Regions from separate parts of the Homo sapiens genome. Here region 2 is linked to region 1. Evidence: fine-mapped QTL for protein levels in blood plasma. A gene starts in region 1. The other region holds a variant in brackets. All regions are shown on one strand. Distances are between the middles of the regions. Region 1 holds the start of WFDC1 (WAP four-disulfide core domain 1). Region 2 overlaps WFDC1 (WAP four-disulfide core domain 1).

What was found. PIP is the posterior inclusion probability: the model's chance that the variant is causal. The UK Biobank Pharma Proteomics Project read protein levels with antibody pairs (Olink). The fine-mapping took linkage between variants from a reference panel, not from the people measured, so its PIPs are less certain.
Region 2: its variant is fine-mapped to the plasma level of the WFDC1 protein (UK Biobank, PIP above 0.99).

What each region holds. Positions count from the first base shown.
Region 1 is chr16:84,293,831-84,296,330 of GRCh38, reverse strand. It overlaps WFDC1 (WAP four-disulfide core domain 1), which reads right to left and starts at 1,453. Exons shown (of 7, transcript NM_021197.4): 1 at 1,216-1,453. The coding sequence starts at 1,359. It overlaps LOC124903734, which reads right to left. Exons shown (of 6, transcript XM_047435022.1): 6 at 1,493-1,998. The coding sequence ends at 1,493.
Region 2 is chr16:84,318,985-84,322,008 of GRCh38, reverse strand. It overlaps WFDC1 (WAP four-disulfide core domain 1), which reads right to left. Exons shown (of 7, transcript NM_021197.4): 4 at 2,438-2,578. Among named protein-coding and RNA genes, the nearest start is that of WFDC1, 26 kb to the right of the region's middle. RefSeq lists an enhancer at 2,023-2,544. The variant A/G (reference allele first, on the strand shown) is at 1,498.

The sequences.
Region 1 (2,500 bases):
CTGCCCTACCCCAAGGAACCTACATGCTACCCTGTTAGGCAACACCAAACAAAGTCACAATTATTTGATTGAAAGCTGCCAAGATGCACTGCCAGCTTGCTATGTTGCAAAGACGTTCTACATACTGAGACATTCAATCCTCACACAGGTGCTGTGGGTGCCAGCATTACCTTCTTGAGCCCTCTGTGTGCTGATATCGTCCTGGCTCACTCCGTCCCTGCGGATCTGTGATCTCTGGGGGGTGGGAGGAACCAAAAATGATAGCCTCCTCCACCCCATTCTCTCTCCTAGTTCCCTTCCTGCTTTATTGCTTCCTCAGCACTTGCAATCTGCACATACTAATAAATGAGATCTCTCTCATTTATTCTTTGCTGCCCCCAGCCCCCCATTGAGTTCCCCAGGCAGAGATGTGAGGCCTGTATCCCCACAGCCTAGGACAGTACCTGGTAAACAGTGGCGACCCAGACATAGTTGTGTGAAGAAATGCATCCCTCTGTCTTTTGCAGATGAGATTGCTGGGGTTCAGAGACGTCAAGCAGCTTGCCTGAGAGAAGCCACGCAGCTAATGAGCAGCAGAGCCCGATTCACACCCAGACATCTGGCCCCAGGGCATGTGTTTCTTGCCACTCACTGCCTCATGCCTTCTCTTTGTACTGCCATCGTTTGTCACCCAACTGCCTCTGCACCTCGGCCACGCCACCCTTGAGGATGGGGGCTGGTACCTCCTTTATCTTGTATCCACAGGACCCCACAGAGTGCCTTCCCCAGAGCGGTTTCTGCTAAATTCTGTTTAACAGAGTGTATTCATTCTGTTTGCTGAATGAATAAACAACCACATGAATGCATAAGTGTATTTCACAAACATTTGGTACTGATCAGGGAGACGGAATGCTCCGTTTAAATCCTGGGGTTCCGAAATGAGATGCTGTCTTTCAGGAGCAAGCATACTTTTGTAACAAGGCAAAAGTAAGGCACGATTCTTTGGCACATTTGTGATGTGTCTTTTGCCTCTTGATTCACAGATAAGGGTCCTTTTTTGGGGGTGAGCCCCATCTGCCCACCACACAACTCAGACACACACGGATAGGAAGACGCCTGCCTTGCCACGTTTTGGGGGAGCACTTACAGGAGAAGGCAGTGTCTAGGGATCGCCTCTCCTCAAGGCTGACTCCCACCCACACAGGCTGCCCCAGCCTCCCCATCCCAGGCACTTACACGGGATTTCTCGGCCAGCCTCGCAGGCAATGCCCGTTTCCAGATATTCTTGGCAGAGCCGGCGTGGAGGAGAAGTAGCAAGAGGCACAGAGCCCGGATGATCTGCCTCCTGCAGCTGCCCGGCCCCACGCCGGTTAAAGGCATTTCCTCCCTGGGCAGCGACCTTCCAGACGCACACAGAAGAGGGGCCCCCCTCGCTGCGTGGGCCTGTGAGTGGGGACAGGAGCGTGCACAGTCTGCTGGACTTTCTTAGTTCCACCCAGCAGGGTCCCTCGGATCATGTGTCCGCGTCCAGCACATGCCCCTTCCTCGATGGTGGCTGGCCTGCCCGGTTATTTTTAGCTTGCCCTATAACATCTGGCCCCAGACGCTCCAACCAGGGCGTCTGCAGCCCAGGCAGCTCAGTGGGCGGTGGCAGCAGGAGGAGGGGGCACCGGCTTGCTTGGAGACGTGGCCGGGAGTGGCCTGTCACTCTCCACTCTCCATAATGAGCACTTCCTTGCAGGCTGGGGCGGTCTCCTCCCAAGGAGGTGTGCTTGACACAGGGCTCGGGGCTGGACATGCAGGGGAGTGCAGCCGGATGGGTGGGGGCTCGGCTGCTACCTTGTTCACATTTCGAGCTGGGCTGACAAACTATCTGCCTATAAAAGCTTCTTTGAAAGAGGCTGCTGGACTGGCACTGGCCAAGGGTGCAGCCATGAAGAGACGACTTCCACCCTTGCACCCGCCGGGGTCCTCCTGCCTGATGTGGGCATGTGGGTAGTTCCTCATAGCGTGTGTTTCCTGTGAGATTTAAAAGAAATTGAGCACATAAAGCATTTCACACACATAAGTGTGCTGTCACTGTCAGCCGGTGTATCTGCACATGTGCATTTATGTGTATGCGTGTGTGCACGTGGGTGTGCATGTGCACGTGTGTGTTTTACAGGAATGTAGCACAGCGGGCTCAACATTTCACAAACTTCATATTCCCTTGTCTGTTCTCAGCACTTCCAAGACAGATACTGGTTTTTTGTTTTGTTTTGTTTTTCGAGACGGGTCTTGCTCTGTCACCCACGCTGGAGTGCAGTGGTGTGATCACAGATCACTACAACCTCTGCCTCCCGGGTTCAAGCGATTCTCCTGTCTCGGCCTTCCAAGTAGCTGGGATAACAGGCATGTGCCACCATGCCTGGCTAATTTTTGTATTTTTAGTGGAGACTGGGTTTCACCATGCTGGCCAGGCTGGTCTCAAACTCCTGACCTTAAGTGATCTGCCCGCCTCAGCCTCCCAAAGTGCTGGTAT
Region 2 (3,024 bases), 25 kb before region 1:
GCCAGGTGCTATTCTAAGCACTTCATACGTGTTTCTCTCACTCAAGCCCCATAACTACCCCATGAAGTAGTCACTATGGTTACCATCGCCATCTCTATTTTACAGATCAAGGAACTGAGGCTAAGAGAGGTTGGGTGACCTGCTCAAGGCCACGGAGGAAGAAAGTTACAGGCTTTGGACTTCTTTCTGTGGTTCTGAGCCTGCACTCTGAAACCTATGCAGCACTGCCTCCTGGTTCTACTTCTCCTTTTGCAGGCTTGCAGCAAAGCTTAATTTAAAGAGAGCACTCCAAAGGTGCATGTTAACAGTAGGCATCACTGGTGTGGTCACCACTGAATGACTGACCCTCTTTGCTTAGCTCTGTCTTGAAATGGGAATTTTTTTAACTGGTTTGAACCCTTAAGAACTAGTTTGACTTGGTTTGACCTTGGTCTTAGACATCATAGGGCTGAATGAAAAGATCAGGGGATGAAAAAGACAAGTGCCCAAGGCATTCCTATTATGCCGTCATTATTATAAATGGTGGCATAGCCCAACGAACTCACAACTCGCCCCACAGCTCTCTTTTGGAAAAGGCTATCCCTTCCACACTCCAGCAGCCTCACAGTGGCTGGCAGGCCCTTGCGGTTTTACCTCCAAAGGACCATACACCCCACCCACCCACGGCAGGATTGAGTGTCTAGAGACAAGCAGTGATAAAACAGTGAAGGTTGTTTACTGTGCTTGTGAATTGATGGACACTCTACACAGATTAACTCACTCCTCAAAGAGCCCTGTGAAGTACCTCAAGTATTATGAACCCATTTTACAGAAAAGGCAAATGAGGCCTGAAAAGGTTATGTTATTTGCTGCCCACAGCAGTAAGGGGCTGAGTAGCTGTGGCAGCCCAGGCTATCTGGCTGGAGAAGCCACCCTATAACCCCAAACAAAGCCCTGCAAATAGCAAGTGGAATGTAGAGGAAACCAAAAAGGCATCTCTTTGTTTCAAAGCCTTTTGTAGATAATTTCTTCAAAGTTCAGGATTCCGGGATTTGCATCACTTTATCTGCAATGATAATGACATTAAATGCATGACTGATTTTACGTCTATGCCTTTCTTGAAACACTTCAGAGAAAAACATTCTCAAATCAGAAAAAAAAAGAGGTTTTGGCAGATCATGCACTCCCCAGTATACTTTCGGCAAATAGGGTCACTGTAATTATCACCAATCTTGTCTGAGGGTCCTGTCCTTAGCTATTAGGGCTATGAGATGCCGAAGCGGGGACAGGGGCCCCTGGGTGTGGTCTCAGTCTGACTGACACTGACTTTGACAAGGTGAACCTGGCCACCCTGAAGTCCCAGATTCCTGGCTCACCACACAGTTCATCCAAACTCCATGCCAAAAAGCACATTGAAGTCTTTCAACTTGATTGCCTTGAGTGGGGTTCGAGATGGTTTTAGATACCACCAGGAATCGCTGTGCCATTGTTCTTTCTTTTCTTGGGAAAATTATGCCA[A/G]TGAGAGCAACACAATTCACTCATCTATTTATTGCCTTTGTGTCCAAAGACGAACACAAATTAAGTCAAACTGAACAGTCCTGGCAGAAGTTCTGGAAGTTAAGGATTCTCAGACAATTCTAATTCAATGCAGTTTGAAAACAGATACAGATGCTTCTTGACTTACAATGGAGTTATGTACTGATATACCCCCTACAAGCTGAGAATATCTTAAGTCAAAATGCACTGAACACAGTTAACCTACTGAACACCATACCTTAGCCGAGCCTACCTTAACTGTGCTCAGAACACTTACATTAGCCTAGAGTTGGGCAAAGTCATCTAACACAAAGCCTATTTTATAATAAAATATTGAATGTGTCGTGTAATTTGATTACCATACTGAAAGTGAAAAACAGAATGGTTGGATGGGAACTTGAAGTACAGTTTCTACAGAATGCATGTTGCTTCTGCACCAGCGTAAAGTCTAACAATCTTAAGTTGACCATCGTAAGTCGGGGTCCATCTACACATACGTGGATATAAAACATCCAGTGCTTACTGACCACCTACTATTCCTTAGGGCTGCTCCGACTGCTCTGCACTTATGATTTCAGTCACGCCCCACAACAGCATGTAGTAGCCCCATTTTACAGATGAGGAAACTGAGGCTCAGAGATAGGAAGAAATTAACCCCAGTGTCGCCCAGCTGGGAGGTGCAGAGCTGGGGTTTGCAGCCAGTCTGCTGGCTCAAGAGCTTCGGTCACATGCTAGTGTGACAGGGAAAGGGTAGGGGCCATGAAAGAAGGAGCCGGGCAGGGGGAAGATGTGAGGAGCTCTCAGTCAGGCCCAGGTGCTGGGGCTGCTTCCTGGGGCAGGTCGTCCATGCGGGTGAGAGGCGCTTACAGGGAGAAGGGGACTGGGGCAGGAGCCAGGATCAGGGCTGGGGTGCCACACTCACCTGCTTGCCGGCGCTGCTTGACGCACTGCCCACGGTTGGGGATACCTTCGGCCACGTCACCTGGGCTCAGGATGTGGCACTCATAGCCCGAGGGACAGAGCAGGGGTTCGGCCCCATCCTCCGTGGTGCTGCACGCCTCTGCTGCAGGAGGGACACACGCTGGGGTCTAGAAGGCCGACTCCCAGGACAGGTGCACATGCTAGGGTCTAGAAGGCAGACTCCCGGGACGGGTGCAGGGAACGCACCTCACCCAGAGAGGCGGCCTCGCCTCTGTACCCCAGGTTCCAGGCTAGGCCCTGGGTCTCACTCAGCGGCATGTGGCACACGTGCACACCCACAAACACGCACACAAACACAGGCAGTCCAAGCTCACCTGATCCCAAACATACTCTCACAGGCTCAGCAACATCCATATAGACATGTTCACGGATACACCCTGAAACACACACTCAGCCCTACAGTCGCATGGGGACACAGACATTTACACAAGCAAGTCAGACGCACAAATACACACAGACATATACGCACGCATCCCCACACACAAATCCTGCACACACATATCCACACCCACATACACACACGCTTAC